4 linked regions of the Homo sapiens genome follow. The protein of the gene in region 1 purifies or fractionates together with the protein of each later gene. This does not show direct contact. Each region holds a gene or a part of one and is shown in the gene's direction. Other genes may lie near its edges.

Region 1 (5,368 bases):
CTATTTGCTGAGAATACACATATTAAATATGGGTATATTCTATAATATACACATATATAATTTAAAGATATTTTTAAAATTGTATTACTATAAAACAGAGAATGCAGAGAAAATTGACCAGTACCTTGAAATAATAAAAAGTCCCTTTGAGAACAAGAATATTTTCTCACACATGGAAAATTCGTGAGTCACTGGATGTGGGGATTTACCAAGTCATGTACATCATACTTATGCCTCCTGACTCGTGAACTTAAATAAACTGAGACCAGTGTGATCTTATTCTTAAGTATCTTTAAGTAAGGAGAAGGCACATATCTAACTATTCTTCCAGAGAAGCATTAATTCTTTTTTTTTTTTTTTTTTGAGACAGAGTCTCACTCTATCGCCCAGGCTGGAGTGCAGTGGTGCAATTTTGGCTCACTGCAACCTCTGCCTCCCAGGATCAAGCTATTCTCCTGTCTCAGCCTCTCAAGTATCTGGAATTACAGATGCGTGCCACCACACTTGGCTAATTTTTGTATTTTTAGTAGAGGTGGGGTTTCACCATGTTGGCCAGGCTGGTCTCAAACTCCTGACCTCAAATGATCCACCCACCTTGGCCTCCCAAAGTGTTGGAATTACAGGCATGAGCCACTGCTCCCGGCCCAGAGAACCATTAAATTCTAATATCTAATTGAAATTGCTTTTTCTGACCTTCAAATACATTTCTCCTACTGTAGGCTGTAACATAGAACTAAAATCCCCAAATAATTGAGAACAGGAGAATTAAACTGCCTGCTGGGTCTCTGAGACTTCAGAAGCTGCGTTATGTTGTGAAAAACTAAGCTGAGTTTCAAAGTGGTCTAATCACATGAGGCTGTCCTGCTGAGGGGGACTCTAGTAGTCAGCCTAGTAGTAGCAGCCTAGTAGTCAGCATAAGATAAGAGGGACATAAATCCACAACATTAGAATATTCAAGAGCTGCAAATGAAGAAGAAAGAAAAACCATAAAAGATGAAAAAGAGGACGGGCGCGGTGGCTCACGCCTGTAATCTCAGGACTTTGGGAGGCTGAGGCGGGCGGATCACGAGGTCAGGAAATTGAAACCATCCTGACGACCACAGTGAAACCCCGTCTCTGCTAAAAATACAAAAAATTAGCCAGGCGTGGTGGCGAGCGCCTGTAGTCCCAGCTACTCGGGAGGCTGAGGCAGGAGAATGGCTTGAACCCGGGAGGCGGAGCTTGCAGTGAGCGGAGATCATGCCACTGCACTCCAGCCTGGACGACAGAGCGAGACTCTGTCTCAAAAAAAAAAAAAAAAAAAAAGATGAAAAAATTCAGGTTGCCATGTCCTAAATACATACACTATATGCCCAGCTTTGTGCTATGTTGTCTAAGTCTTCTTTTCAGTTACCAAATGTGTGGATGGTACAGATCCAAAGTGAAATTCAGAGTGCAGAGGTGAGCTCCATATTGTCAAGGAAAAACTGGGGGATGAGTTATGCCTTGAAGAAACTAGAGACATTTGGTCCAACGAAACGAAACAACATTTAAAAAAAAAACTCTCCTGTTTCCCCATGGCTAGCCTATTTGTGTTGATGCTTACCATTTCATAATTTCCTCATTTTGTTGTTACATGGAGTGAAGAGAACTGACATGCTGTCCAATAAACTTCCTTGTCCTCCTTATGCAAGAAAGGAAATCCTGACTTAATGCGTAGCCACAGAACAAGTTAATATTCTACATCTATCGGAGCTGAACTTCCTAAAAGACAAAGTGTTTATCTTTCAAGATTCATTCTCCCTGAATCTTACCAACAAAACACTCCTGAGGAGAAAGAAAGAGAGGGAGGGAGAGAAAAAGAGAGAGAGAGAAACAAAAAACCAAAGAGAGAGAAAAAATGAATTCATCTAAATCATCTGAAACACAATGCACAGGTAAAATCTGCAACTCTTCCTTTCCTTCCATAGATCTCTTTTTGGAACAAGTGATAAATATGGTGAAAGACAGGACAATAGAAAAGTATTCACTGAAGTTAAAAAAAAAAGTGGGGGGACAGAGGAAGAGAGAGAGAGAGATTTAAAGACTATTTCTTATACCAGAAAGCCTGCTGGCCTCTAGCTAAGGGAGAGCTATCAGTTTCCACCCTTTCTGCAATACATTGTGTCCCTTTTGGCAAGTCACTTCACTTCTCTGGAACTCTCTTTGTCTGTAAAATGTTTAATGGGAGGAAGAGAGGAACTATTAGATGACTGTTAACATTTTACCTAATTTACAAAGCGCTTGAAAAGTGAGACACAGAAAAAAAAAAAAGATCAGGAGAAGGACAAGAAAAGCAAAGACGAGAAAAGGGAAAAGAAAGAAAAAGAAAGAAGGGGGGCCTTAGAAAATACTGAAAAAAATTTAACTGAGAGACTTAGAAAGGAAAAATTGTATATCTGAGTTCATGAGTCAGAGTCTTACTCCAGGGGTGCTAAACGTGTGGTCCTCAGACCAGCAGCAGCAGTAGCCCCTGGGAACTTGTTGGTTCCATACAAACTCTACTGAGTTGCTAACTCTGGGGGTAAGGGTCAGCAATCTGTGTTTCCATAAACCCTCCAAGTGATTCTGAAGCATGCTGAAATTTGGGAATTACTCAGTACAAACAATGGAAGTAGAAGGAAATAAGTAAGGATGAATAAGAATCTCTTCTATCTCTTTTGTACCTTGCTTAGGGAAGATTGATCATGTTTGTGTCTTTCTTTCTACAGAGAGAGGATGCTTCTCTTCCCAAATGTTCTTATGGACTGTTGCTGGGATCCCCATCCTATTTCTCAGTGCCTGTTTCATCACCAGATGTGTTGGTGGGTTCTGAAGGTCAAATTCAATTTAATTCTTCCTGGTGCATATTAGGAGAAAACTCTTCCATGCTGCCTGTAGACTCTCTTTGCCCTCAAAGGGTCTTTCTATTTCACCCTTTTTTTTTTCCCTATTAATCTCTAGGTTATTTCTCAAACCAGAAACCTCAACAAGCAGGGAACTGTTTCTGAATTTTAATCACCTGTGACTTACTTTTCATGATAGACATTTTTCACTTCCTTGGCAGTCCTGAATCCTCCTCTTTCAGCCTCTATCATTAGTGTAACCTTCTCTAGGAGAGTCTGCCTTAGAGCTTGAACTACTGGTCGGCACCAGAGATATGACTAATTACTTTTGGAAGGAAGGGTAGAGAGAGTTGGACTTGGCATAAGAGGTAGTGCAAACATATCTATTTTCTCTGGGTCGTAAGAAAAAGCAGATTGTAAGAAAAAACATGATAATTATTGGCACTTTTGTTATAAATACAAAACTGAGGGAACTGACATTTTTAACCGAAATAAGACTAACAAACATTATGCCCTTTCTTTTACAGTGACATTTCGCATCTTTCAAACCTGTGATGAGAAAAAGTTTCAGCTACCTGAGAATTTCACAGAGCTCTCCTGCTACAATTATGGATCAGGTATAATAGTCCCAAAGGTGAACATCAAAATTTACAAAGCAACATTTTCTGGCTTCTAGATTGACTTTGGGACAGGTGAGATATAGCTGGATTAGGTCTTATTTTTCAAAAGCAAAATGTAAAATCCTAGAAATTTGGTGATGCAATTAGCATTGGGGCAGAAAGTCTTGGGGACATTATAGTAAACTTTTAGAATAAATTTGAGGGGTATGTCTGAACAGTAAATCTGGAAGTGGAAGGTATTATTCCCAGGAGTGTACCTTTTTTTTCATTCACCTACTTCCAAAATGAGATGGAGAAAAAACGTATGGAGTAGAGAATTTATAAATATCTCACAAATATACTCTCTATGCTCTTCTATGTCATCCTGTTGCAAGTCCTAGCAAAATGCTACATGACACTAAAAAAGTGACTTCCTTCTCTGAGCTATAATTTTCTCACCATTAAATTGAGAGAAGTTAGAAGAATTATTTATAATAGACCTCAAAGGCAAAAGTTCTGTAATTCTAAGAAATCTAACTGTAGGGACCAGCCCCACAGGGTTGGTGGGTCTCTCCCTGTGTCCAGAGACGAGAGCATGTAGAAATAAAGACACAAGACAAAGAGATAAAAGAAAAGGCAGCTGGGCCCAAGGGACCACTACCACCAATGCGCGGAGACCGGTAGTGGCTCCGAATGTCTGGCTGCGCTGTTATTTATTGGATACAAGGTGAAAGGGGCAGGGTAGAGAGTGTGAGTCATCTCCAATGATAGGTAAGGTCATGTGGGTCACGTGTCCACTGGACAGGGGGACCTTCCCTGCCTGGCAGCCGAGGCAGAGAGGGAGAGGAGACAGAGAGAAAGACAGCTTACGCTATTATTTCTGCATATCAGGGACTATTAGTACTTTCGCTAATTTACTACTGCTATCTAGAAGGCAGAGCCAGGTGTACAGGATGGAACATGAAGGCAGACTAGGAGTGTGACCACTGAAGCACAGCATCACAGGGAGACGGTTAGGCCTCCGGATAACTGCGGGCAAGCCTGACTAATGTCAGGCCCTCCACAAGAGGTGGAGGAGCAGAGTCTTCTCTAAACTCCCCCAGGGAAAGGAAGACTCCCTTTTCCTGTCTGCTAAGTAGCGGGTGTTTTCCCTTGACACTTAACGCTACCGCTAGACCACAGTCTGTCTGCCTGGCCACGGGCGTCTTCCCAGACGCTGGCGTCACCGCTAGACCAAGGAGCCCTCTGGTGGCCCTGTCCGGGCATAACGGAAGGCTCGCACTCTTGTCTTCTGGTCACACCTCACTATGTCCCCTCAGCTCGTAGCTCTGTACGGCCTGGTTTTTCCTTGGCTATGATTATAGAGCGAGGATTATTATAATATTGGAATAAAAAGTAATTGCTACAAACTAATGATTAATGATATTCATATATAATCATATCTAAGATCTATATCTGGTATAACTATTCTTGTTTTATATTTTATTATACTGGAACAGCTCGTGTCCTCTGTCTCTTGCCTCAGCGCCTGGGTGGCTTGCCGCCCACATCTAACCCATCTATATACTACAGTATGGAGATTTGATTGAGGATACATTGTTTAGGTAACATAAGAGATGGCTCTTTGGGGGTCACCCAAATAAAATGCATAAATTTCTCTGACATTAGTAGTCTAAGAACAGATAATAAGGTTCTATATCAATAGCATAACTAAGATAGTTTGCATATATAGTTGCATTTCCTGGCACTGACATCCAGAGAATGAGAATTACGTTCAAAAGACCAAAAACATTCTGTTTATGTTTCTTGACATTGGAATTATCTAAAGTCTTAGATACTAAGATGTAGGGTATGAACAAGTGATTCCAAGGCTTCTGACTTAAATGAGGACTCCATGGGGCCAGATGAAGCTTTGGGTTTTCTTAT
Region 2 (3,500 bases), on another chromosome or scaffold:
TCTCGCAGCCTTTTCAAATAGCATCTATCATTTTCCATACATGTTAAGCTAAAACATTTAGGAGCAGAAAAACTTGCACCAAATTATTTTACCACTTGGTAGGAGAGCTAAGATGTTGAAGGACTTGATCACTTAAGGCATCCATAGCTGTTTTTCTTGATACCCAATTGTTATACTCCTGAGGATTTTAACTTGAGACGTGGAACAGCTTTCTTTGGCCATCCATTGGGAGCTGAATCACATATCTACAACACTTTGAGAAAAAGTATTCTTCTTTCTTAAAGTTGTTTATAGAATTTTTTTTACCAACTATTTATAAATTAAATTGTTATTTAAAGACTAACTTGGAGAGGTTCCTAATTATCCAGACTACTAATGTACATTGGTTTTCTTTTGCAGAAGCTGAGTATCTATGGTGACTTGGAGTTTATGAATGAACAAAAGCTAAACAGATATCCAGCTTCTTCTCTTGTGGTTGTTAGATCTAAAACTGAAGATCATGAAGAAGCAGGGCCTCTACCTACAAAAGTGAATCTTGCTCATTCTGAAATTTAAGCATTTTTCTTTTAAAAGACAAGTGTAATAGACATCTAAAATTCCACTCCTCATAGAGCTTTTAAAATGGTTTCATTGGATATAGGCCTTAAGAAATCACTATAAAATGCAAATAAAGTTACTCAAATCTGTGAAGACTGTATTTGCTATAACTTTATTGGTATTGTTTTTGTAGTAATTTAAGAGGTGGATGTTTGGGATTGTATTATTATTTTACTAATATCTGTAGCTATTTTGTTTTTTGCTTTGGTTATTGTTTTTTTCCCTTTTCTTAGCTATGAGCTGATCATTGCTCCTTCTCACCTCCTGCCATGATACTGTCAGTTACCTTAGTTAACAAGCTGAATATTTAGTAGAAATGATGCTTCTGCTCAGGAATGGCCCACAAATCTGTAATTTGAAATTTAGCAGGAAATGACCTTTAATGACACTACATTTTCAGGAACTGAAATCATTAAAATTTTATTTGAATAATTATGTGCTGAAATTTGAGTATCTGATTTTTCTAGACCTTCCCTCCTATTCCTGCCCAACCTAGATAAGAATTATGAAATGTTCTGTGTTTATTGCTATTGCTTTATAATGTGATGGTCAGGGACCATTTTGATGCAAAACTGATCTCTCAGCAGTACATTTGATGTTATTTTGCACAGGCTATAGGTTTTTGTTTGATGAGTGTTTCCAAAGAACTATTTTTCTCTGTTAGATAGCATATCAAGTATAAGGTAAACATATTTTCAGAGAAAACTTCATTTTAACACTAAAAATTAGACTCTTGTGATACAGAATTAAGTATAAATTTTACTTGGCAAAAACTCGTTTTATTTTTACCTGCAATAATACAGAGCTTAATATTAGAATGATATCAGGTCATAATAATAATACACCAGAATCTTTTGAGATGGAATTTTGCTCTTGTTGCTGAGGCTGGAGTGCAATGGTATGATCTTGGCTCACTACAACCTCCACCTCTGAGGTTCAAGCGATTCTCCTGCCTCAGCCTCCCGAGTAGCTGGGATTACAGGCATGCGCCACCACACCTGGATAATTTTGTATTTTTAGTAGAGACGGGGTTTCACCAGGTTGGCCAGGCTGGTCTCGAACTCCTGACCTCAGGTGATCCACCCACTTAGGCCTTCCAAAGTGCTGGGATTACAGGCGTGAGTGACTGTGCCCAGCCTACACCAGAATTCTAATATGATTCACTGTTATTATGCCATAAAATATTAAAAACTTTGTAAAACAATACTTTCCTCAGTCACAGGGGCATTGCTGACAACTGCATCAGTGCTGTTTGACTAAAGAATAAGTTAGTCACTCCTCCTATGGCCTAGTCTTTAGCCTTCCTGAGTCCAAATGAAAAGCAGTTAACAGCTAATCAAGGAAGACTTTGGTCACAAAGTGTAGGTTTTTATTTTTAGTTTGTCTAGATTTGGATGATAGAAAGTTGTGAACACATCCAGATGGGGAAGAAAGGAGGAATTAGCCGTCATTGTCAAGCAGTCATTGTTTCTTTCTTCTTTTTGTTAGAAAACATGGGATAAAACGTGGGGACTCAGCCAGGCACAGTGGCTCACGCCTGTAATCCCAGCACTTTGGGAGGCCAAAGCAGGAGGATCACTTGAGGTCAGGAGTTCGAGACCAACCTGGGCAACATAGCAAGACCCTCTCTGTACAAAAAAATACAAACAAACATGGGGACTATATAAAACATGGGTAGTGGATAGGAGTTACCATTAAAAAAAAATAAAAAGCCCTGTTGTTTCGTCTCCCATCATTAGTGCATACTTAGTTTCCTTAGTCAGGCACAGGTTTAATTGTAATGCATCCAATGAAGCAAACAGAGAAACACAAAATGCTGCTGTCTCACAGGAATCAAAGAGCCCACTGTTAGAAAAGACCCTCCCTTATAAAAACAAAACAAAGAATTATCTAGATCACTTGGGGCCAGGAGTTCAACACCATCCTGGGCAATATAATGAGAATCCCATCTTTTTTTTTTTTTTTAAAGCAACTGTACAGTTGTCCTATATTCTCCACCTTCCCTTGGTTTCATTTCTCTTCGCTTCCTGAATGAGAAGTGCCTGAGATACCTTCATTTCTCTTGAAAGTATTGATCCAAGTTTAGACAAATATCTCCCCTCTTGTTGAGAGAATTCCTTATATGTGAAAATACCAAGACATTCTTGATATTTAGCAGGCACTCAAATATTTGTCTCCTCTTTTTTAGCATAATTAAGCCAGACTGATGTTTGCATTTGAGTATCATCAGCATGAGTAACCATTTTAATCTCTCTTCCCTTAACTACTTGTTCTACACTAGAGTCTAGGGTCAGGGTACGTACAGTGATAAAGATTGAGATAATGGGAAATATAGTCTTCTGTTTGGGAAGCTGGATTGTAGTGTTGATTTTCTGACTCCTTGTGGTAATTAAATTCTGAAGCACAGAATCTACTTTTGAGAAGAAATATTTTACTTTTGAAAAAAAATCCCCAAAATATATACAGCATAAAAATGTTTCCGATCTTGAAAATCCCAACCAAAGCAACAAAACTGAGCTTCCAAGCCCCTTCTCCTAAAGTAACAGTTTTGCCCTTCTTGGATGTGCCTAACTTTACTTAGCTCCTTGTTTCCATAAAACAGTCATAATCTTATTTCCTACCACACAGAAAGCATCTTGAGAATCTGGTCTTGGTCCTAGGCAAATTCTCAAGACCGTTGGGTCTCTGGTTCAAACCTCCCAGACTTCTAAGGTCTTTCTTGGCTCAGGTCCCTCATCTAAGAGACATGCTAATTCAGGCAATTACAAAAGCAGTACTAATCACCATAATGAATGATCTGGGCCTAGGTTCCAAGTTTTCTCACAAAACTTCATGGGCACCTTTCATTTGTGATATGTTTTGTAGTAAATCAGAAATTACTAGATGATCTGGTCAATCTTATC
Region 3 (4,036 bases), on another chromosome or scaffold:
ACTGCTGCCCTGACCTCAGCCCCATCCCATTCTGCCTAGCCCCTTGCTGGGCACTTCCCTCCCCAGGGACAGCCACAGAAAAATGATGATCTCGGCTGGGCGTGGTGGCTCACGCCTGTAATCCCAGCACTTTGGGAGGCCGAGGCAGGTGGATCACCTTAGGTCAGGAGTTCGAGACAAACCTTGCCAACATGATGAAACCCCGTCTCTACTAAAAATACAAACATTAGCTGGGCGTGGTGGTGTGTGCCTGTAGTCCCGGCTACTTGGGAGGCTGAGGCAGGAGAATCACTTGAACCCGGAGGCGAAGGTTGCAGTGAGCCGAGATCAAGCCGCTGCACTCCAGCTCTGGGCAACAGAGCAAGACTCTGCCTCGAAAAAAATAAATAAATAAGAAAGATGATCTCAGGGTCCCTACCCTAGGAGTCAGATGCACGGTGGGGCCATTCCTAGCGCTGCCTGCCCTGGACAGCGCCTGTCTATGCCTGTGGCCCAGCATCATTATGAGGAGTGCTCCCTTGACTCTGGCTGTCCTGATTTGGACACTAGACTTCATGGTCACCCTGGCCACAGGTACCCTATCCTGCATCCTGAGCTCCGCTCTTCCTGGAGTCATGGGCTGGTCTTTCCTCCTGGTGGCCTTGCGCCCCAGCTCCAGCTTCCTGACTTTTCTCTTCTGGAAATGGGAATGCCAAGTCCTATTTCATGGAGTTTTGAGAATGAAATGACTGGTGTACGGTGCAAAGTGCCTGTGAGTGCCCAAGAAATCTCTTTTATTAACAAGACACGAATTCATTCCAATTGATTTGACGGGCCACTGTTGTCACAGCAGCCGCACTGCCCCAAAGGCAGCAGTGATGTTTGAGCGCCGACTCCCCGACGGCACTTGGTCCTCACAACCACCCCATGGAGTTCATGCTAAGATCCTCGCATTTCATTTGTGTGGCAGGGACTTGCTGAGGTCCGGGGAGGGGCAGAGAGGAGGGGTGCGGCCGCCCCGCGCTTTGCACTTTCCGCGTCCTCCAGCAGAGGGGTCGGCCGGCGGGCTCAGCGTCCCGCATAATAGCCGCTTTGAAGCCCGCGGAGCGGGTGGCGGGAGGGGAGGGGAGAGGCGGGAGGGGAGGGGAGAGGCGGGAGGGGAGGGGCGAGGCGGGAGGGAGGGAGGGAGGGGCCGGCAGCGGAGGGAGGGGTGTGTCGGCCGCCCGCGCCGTTCCTCCGCCCCTCGGTCCCGCGGCCACACGCAGCTAGCCGGAGCCCGGACCAGGCGCCTGTGCCTCCTCCTCGTCCCTCGCCGCGTCCGCGAAGCCTGGAGCCGGCGGGAGCCCCGCGCTCGCCATGTCGGGCGAGCTCAGCAACAGGTTCCAAGGTAGGCGCCGCCGTCCCCGAGCAGCCACCTGTGCGCGCCGGGCGGACCGCGGGGTCCACCGCGCGCGGGAAGCGGGCGGGGACGGGGGCGCGTGGCCCGAAGAGGACCCCGCTTCCCAGGCCGCCTCTTTGTCTCCTCCAGGAGGGAAGGCGTTCGGCTTGCTCAAAGCCCGGCAGGAGAGGAGGCTGGCCGAGATCAACCGGGTAAGCCCCGCGCCCAGGGCAGCACGCGAGTCCCGAGCCGCGCGCTGCGCGGGTGCCACCTCTCCTTCCGCGAGGCCGTGCCCGCCTCCAGATCTACCCTCTTCCTTCCCTTCCCCTGGGCTTCCCTCAGGTGCCTCCCTCCGCCCCCAGCCCCGTCGCCTCCGACTCCAGGTAGGTCCGCCTCCGCCTCCCGCCTCCGGTCTCGGGTTGCAAGTTGTTACTCTTGCAACTGGGGACTGGGGAGGTGGGGCCGGGTCAGGAGCTCGGATGCCAGCCGGCTCGTGGCTCCCCGCAAGCCCGCTTGGGAGCAGCCCAAGGATTTGGCGCGGGAAGGGCCCTAGGCCAGTGATCTCTCCAGCTCAGAACACAGGCTCCGGGTCATTTGCTGGTCTGTCGCCCAGGCTGGAGTTCGGTGGCCCAATCTCAGCTCATTGCAGCCTCCACCTTTGGGATTCAAACGGTCCTCCCTCCTCATCCTCCCGAGTAGCTGGGACTACAGGCATGTGCCCCCACGCCTGGCCTTAGCTATTGTTGTTATAAGGGATTCAAAAGTACAAATAGAAGACTCTGATGGGCGTAGAGATCCTGGCACTTCCCCGTGGTCTCCAGCCTCCCGCCTCCCTCAAACACACCACTCCTCTTCACTCCAACTTTCAGGAAAGATTGCCTTAAGGGATTCAATGCTTTTCTTGCTGGTCCTGGTGGATTTCTCAAAAGAAATCTTTCCTGTTGTTGCCAGGCATCCAGTGAGAGCTCCATAAATTTACATAGATTCTAGAAGATAAGGAAAGATATCAGGACCTGTCTGGGTTGGCCAAAGCTCAAAGGCAGCACAGCCAGTGGCTTTAAAGTTCTGCAAGACCTGGGCTCAGATCTGGCCTCCACTGTGTGCCAGCTCTGTGGTCCTCAGCAAAGGGCCTCTCATCTCCAAGCAGGGCATTGTGCAGGCTCAGAGAGGGAAGGCCCGTGGCCTGCATGGCCCAGCACCCAGCATTCAGGAAGCACTCACAGAACTAGCATTATTTCCTGAGGTGGATGTCTCCCAGTTTCCTTCTTAACTGGTGGCAGAGGCACGCCCGCTGAAACAAGGCTTGGCATTCCCCCTGCAGGCTCCTCTGGTCCCCTGGACACCCAGGGTCTAAGCCCAGCTGACAGTCTGGAAGTGGGCCGCTGGTGAGGTCAGCAGAGCCCGAGAAGGCTGTGGGAGGCGGGTCCGAGCCTGGGGCCAGGTTGTGGTATTGCCTCTTGCCAGCAGTGTGCAGCCTTGATTCCCCCTTGGTTTTCTTGGACTGCTTGGATGTAGGCAGCCTGTCTGTTTTCCATCCGCTGGCTACAGGACTCCCATTCGGTCCCCAGCTACAGGGCTCTGGGGACCTCAGGGTTCCCCCTCCAGGTAAGCTCCGGCCTCCTCACCGCCACCCTCACCCTGCTTCCTGGGGGCATCTTGAGCACAACTGGAAGGTTGCCCGGACATCTGGCTGGGGTGCTCAGGGGTCTCGGATCCCTGCTGGGCTCCTTCCCAGATCACTGTGTGCCTGCCCAGCCTGGGGCTTGGCTGCTCTAGCCCTCTGGACAGAAGGCTGGAACCCCGACCTCATATAGCCCCCTGGGTCACTTGGCCAGGCGGGTTCTGAGCTGGCTGGAGCCACCCACAGCCAGCGGGACCCTGAGCCACAGACAGCTGGAGATGGGGGTGAGGTGACCATGGTTGGACAAGCCAGAAGAGCTAAGAGGGCGGGGCCAACCTAGCCCTTGGGGAGGTGGGTTGGGGGAGGGGGCGGCTCCAGGGTTGTTTTGGGAAACCGACTAGCTTGGCTTAGAAAGAGGAGGGACTTTAACAGCTGTCAGGGGCTGATCTGGGCAGCACTGGGACTAGGGAAAGTGAGCAGGAAGGAGCTGTGGTCTAACCACCTCAGGACAGCGCCCAGAGAGGGCAAGCAGCTGACCCAAGGCCACGCAGAAGCCAGTGACAGAGCTTGCAGCCCAGCGTCCTTCCCCTGCCAAGACGCTGTACTGAGACCCACCATGACAGCCCAGCCGCTGTAGGGCTGCTGAGGCCCAGGATCTGGGGCCCTGTAGGAAGGAGGCGCCAGGATCACACGGGAAGCTTGAGCTGCTTCACCACAGTGGAGCAGGGTGGCCCCACCAGTTTAGTCATGAGGTACCCACAAGCACTGATCTGTGACTCTGGGCAAGCCACTCACCTCTCTGAGCCTCCTTCTCCAAAAAGATAATGGTTGTGATTTTTTCAGTGAGACAATCTATGTAAAGCACCCAGGAGAGCTGGCTGCGGCCCTGATAGCTATCAGGACAGTTTCTTTGTTCGTGGCCTCAAGGTGCAGGGAGTGGAAGATACTCCGCCCTGGCTCATGCTGGTTGCTCAGCCCAGCAGAACCTCGTCTTCCCCAGCCTGAAATGGGAGCAGGGATCTCTGCCCCTCTGGAGTCCCTGCAACAATTAACCGATG
Region 4 (3,500 bases), on another chromosome or scaffold:
TGTGGAATGGAAATTTGGGATTATTTGGGGTTAGTCTTGGCTGTCAGTCCAAACAGTTACTCTGAAGCTGTTTTTAGCCTTGACCCTGGGGTTCTGTGTGCCACACTCACCACACATGTGCAACAGTGCCAGGGAACCTTGGGATGTGACCTGGCTCTGCTGGGAAGTGTCTAGTGAGCCGCACAGCTGACTCAGACAGGTGCATCTGGGGAGGCTGTGGTTGCTGTGTCTGTCCTCGAGTGCCTGCCCTCTTTTGAAAGTAAGGACATCCTTCATCACCCCAGGGCCCAGCTTAGCCTTGGAAAACAACTAGATCTGTGGTCTGTGCTCATTCTCTTCGGGGGCTAGCACATTAGAACAATAAGCTCCATTTTCTCCTTCCATCTTACATTGAGACTGAGACTTCCCAGGAGAGCCTTGGACCTCTAGTGGCTTTCCCTATAAACTTGGGGGCAGCACATTGCTGTGTGGAAGATGCCTCCTCTCTGAGGACTCCACTCATGAGCCCTTCCTCCTCCTGCCAGCATTTTCTGGACTCCACCATAAGCTTCCCGCTTCTGTCCCCCTTGGTTCCTTAATGTGGCTGAGCATAGCCAAGTACTCAGCTCTGTCTCGGGATCCTCAGGAATTCCATCAGCCTCGTGGGGTTCCTTTTTCCCTGCTCCTGGAGGCAAATTATATGCAGCAAAACGTAGAACTAGTCTTGTGGATTTTCTTTGGTGGAGGAGCATACACCAATGGTTCCATGTAAAGGCTCCAGAATCAGAACTGGCGTCACACCTTGGTGTCACCCCTTCCTGCTGAGCCTGTCTCCCCAGGAGTGAAATGAGGGTAATATTCCTCCTACAAAGGGTGCGGTGGTGGGGGTTTACATGAGGTGGGCGCATCTGTACAAACGTGTTTATCATTGCCAGCTACTTTTTTTTTTTTTTAATAGAGACGGGATCTCACTATGTTGCCCAGGCCAGTTTTGAACTCCTGAGCTCAAGTGATCCTCCTACCTCGGCCTCCCAAAGTGCTAGGATTACAGATGTGAGCCAGCACACCTGGCCACCAGCTGCTTTCATGAAGGTGTTAGATATGCTCTCCTAACAGTGGAACGCGGTTTGATCCCTTCTCCTCACATACACAGTCATAAATGAGTCGTCAGAGTTACCCCAAAGGGAAATGGTAACATCTCCCTACAGAGAAAACTAGCACAGAACTTATGGGCCTCATTGAACAGTTACGTGGGTTGGTTGGACAGAAAAATGTTGGTTCAATTTTCAAATACTAAGGAGAGCTTATTTCAGGAGTCCCTTTTCTTACTTTGTTGAGGGGAGGCATCAGAGCACATGCTGGGAGGATAGGCCAGGAAGCAGGCAGTGGTAACGTGGGACATCGTGCACGTGGTGGAGCATGCCGCCATCTCTCCCTTCACCCTGGCAGAGCTCTCCGTTGAACGGGGAGGTGAACTTGGACATGGACAACAACCAGCCTGTGTCAAGGGGGTTTCCTTACCAGGACTCCTTTCTAGTTTCCTTTCACCTACAATGTGGTCATGGGGCAAAAACCCCAGAGACCACATATGTATTGGTGGAAAGAGAAAAAACAGGACTGTGGAGCCAAAGCTACCTCACTAGCTTTTGTGAAAGTCAGGCTGGAAAGTGCTTCCAGCCACAGAAATAGGCTGTGGGTGTAAATATTAACCTTGGCCATCAAATAAGTAGGCATAGAGTGTGACTCGCCCTCTCTTGGTCTTCCCTGAAACAGCAGGGTCAAGAACTCCTGGTCTGTGTTAGCCACGTGGCTTACAAAAACAATGACACAGAAGAGGGAAAGGTGGGACTAGCCAAGTGGAAGGCCAGCCGTTTATCTCTCAGTGTCCTGTGTCTTATATCCTGAGCAGAGCAAGGTGCAAGACCCTGGACTGGGCATCCAGCAGAAACTTCCGAGAAACTTGACTGTGAGGAAGGATGCTTGCCTAGCAATTGGTCGGATGAAGGGCTCCATTTGATACTTCCTTCACTGTGGAAGGAAGAAATTTGTAAAAATTATTTCCAGAATATGCACACATTAAAGGTTTATAAACCTGACCTTTCTTTAGTAGAAGACAGTAAGAGAATACTGTTGGCTCTGGGAACTAACCATTTGAGCTGTGGGACCCAGGGAATCTCTCTTGTAAGCATCATCTTTAGTGGGTGACTCCTGGTGGCCCTCCCAGCTCTGGTGGTGCTGTGGGGACCTGCCTTGGAGATGCCTTGGTACTAGTACCTTTTTTGTACCAGGCCATGAGCCTAGGGCACAGGGCCTCTGGCCTGCAGATTTCAGGAAGGCAGCTGTGTTGTGTGAACCGATACAGCCTGCCAGCACTTCTGTCCCGAGTGACTGTCGTTGTCATCGTTAGCATGTTGCCTGAAAAGCCTTGGGGTCTGGGCGCTGACACTGAAGCTTTTTTTTCCCTTCTGGCTCTGTGATGTCCAGCATTACCCAGAACGCCATGGAGGACCAGAGCGCCACGGCCGGGACTCCCGCGATGGCTGGGGGGGCTATGGCTCTGACAAGAGGATGAGCGAGGGCCGGGGGCTGCCTCCTCCCCCCAGGTTTGTGTCCCACACCCGACAGTACCTGACCCCCCCCCCGCCCACAAGGGGGCCCGCAAGTCGCTGGGATGTGGGCACAGGGTGGGAAACACAGAGGGATTCACTCTCCAGAAGCCGCCACAGTTATTAGCACAAGAGCCAGAGATGGGGGCAATCCAAATCAGAGATGTCTCTCTTTCAAGGGGCAGACGTGACTGGGGGGACCATGGCCGAAGAGAGGATGACCGGTCATGGCAGGGCACGGCCGACGGGGGCATGATGGACAGGGATCACAAGAGGTGGCAAGGTGAGGAGCAGCTCTGGGCTGGGACCAGGATGTGCTGGGGAGTGATGGAAAGATGGAGGCCGCGCCTTCTCTCCTTGGGGGAGCACAGGAGGTGCTCTGCTCTCAGTGCTGGAATGAGGAATGAAGAGCACTCCAGACACCGCCTGCTCTCTGGTGGTCTGGCCCAGGAGTTGGACAGTGGGCGTTCCCGAGTTCTCTCTGCTGGGAGGAAGCTGGACGTCTATGGTCCCTGTGCCCAGGTGTCTTCCTGGGACCCGCTAGTTGTGGGTACCTGGGGGCCTCACCAAAGGGAGTGGAGTGGGCTAAATGTGCCGTGGGTTCCACGCCGTGTGCGCAAGTTCCCTGTGTGAAAGCACGTCTGTCTTCCAGGTGGCGAGAGAAGCATGTCCGGTCACTCCGGGCCTGGCCACATGATGAACCGAGGAGGAATGTCAGGGTAAGGCATGCTGGGGGCGGCGCCCCTTCCCCCTGCTTTGCATATTGGCCTACCTTGCTGGAGGCTTAACAACCAAGTCCTTCCAGCTAGTGCCCCTCCCCCCAAGGGTGACGTGAGGCCAGGCATGGGGTACTGTGGAGGCTGCTGCCACTCAGGAGGGGAGGGCATTAGGAAGGGGCCCTGCCTGCAGGCAACA

What was found.
Region 2: the proteins of CLEC4E (region 1) and TMEM59 purify together in Homo sapiens (affinity purification with mass spectrometry, with the first as the bait; one large-scale study listed by BioGRID). This does not show direct contact.
Region 3: the proteins of CLEC4E (region 1) and AIF1L purify together in Homo sapiens (affinity purification with mass spectrometry, with the first as the bait; one large-scale study listed by BioGRID). This does not show direct contact.
Region 4: the proteins of CLEC4E (region 1) and SAFB purify together in Homo sapiens (affinity purification with mass spectrometry, with the first as the bait; one large-scale study listed by BioGRID). This does not show direct contact.

The regions. Positions count from the first base shown.
Region 1 is NC_000012.12:8,537,309-8,542,676, reverse strand, and holds the start of CLEC4E (C-type lectin domain family 4 member E), read left to right. Parts: upstream 1-1,771; 5' UTR 1,772-1,879; coding exon 1,880-1,916; intron 1,917-2,729; coding exon 2,730-2,822; intron 2,823-3,370; coding exon 3,371-3,460; coding exon of another isoform or gene 3,461-3,477; intron 3,478-5,368.
Region 2 is NC_000001.11:54,029,205-54,032,704, reverse strand, and holds part of TMEM59 (transmembrane protein 59 isoform 2 precursor), read left to right. Parts: intron 1-399; coding exon 400-555; 3' UTR 556-3,500.
Region 3 is NC_000009.12:131,095,295-131,099,330, forward strand, and holds the start of AIF1L (allograft inflammatory factor 1-like), read left to right. Parts: upstream 1-1,236; 5' UTR 1,237-1,335; coding exon 1,336-1,366; intron 1,367-1,485; exon of another isoform or gene 1,486-1,507; coding exon 1,508-1,569; intron 1,570-4,036. UniProt on the Homo sapiens protein: Actin-binding protein that promotes actin bundling. May neither bind calcium nor depend on calcium for function.
Region 4 is NC_000019.10:5,664,583-5,668,082, forward strand, and holds part of SAFB (scaffold attachment factor B1), read left to right. Parts: intron 1-2,463; coding exon 2,464-2,582; intron 2,583-2,764; coding exon 2,765-2,868; intron 2,869-3,237; coding exon 3,238-3,304; intron 3,305-3,500. UniProt on the Homo sapiens protein: Binds to scaffold/matrix attachment region (S/MAR) DNA and forms a molecular assembly point to allow the formation of a 'transcriptosomal' complex (consisting of SR proteins and RNA polymerase II) coupling transcription and RNA processing.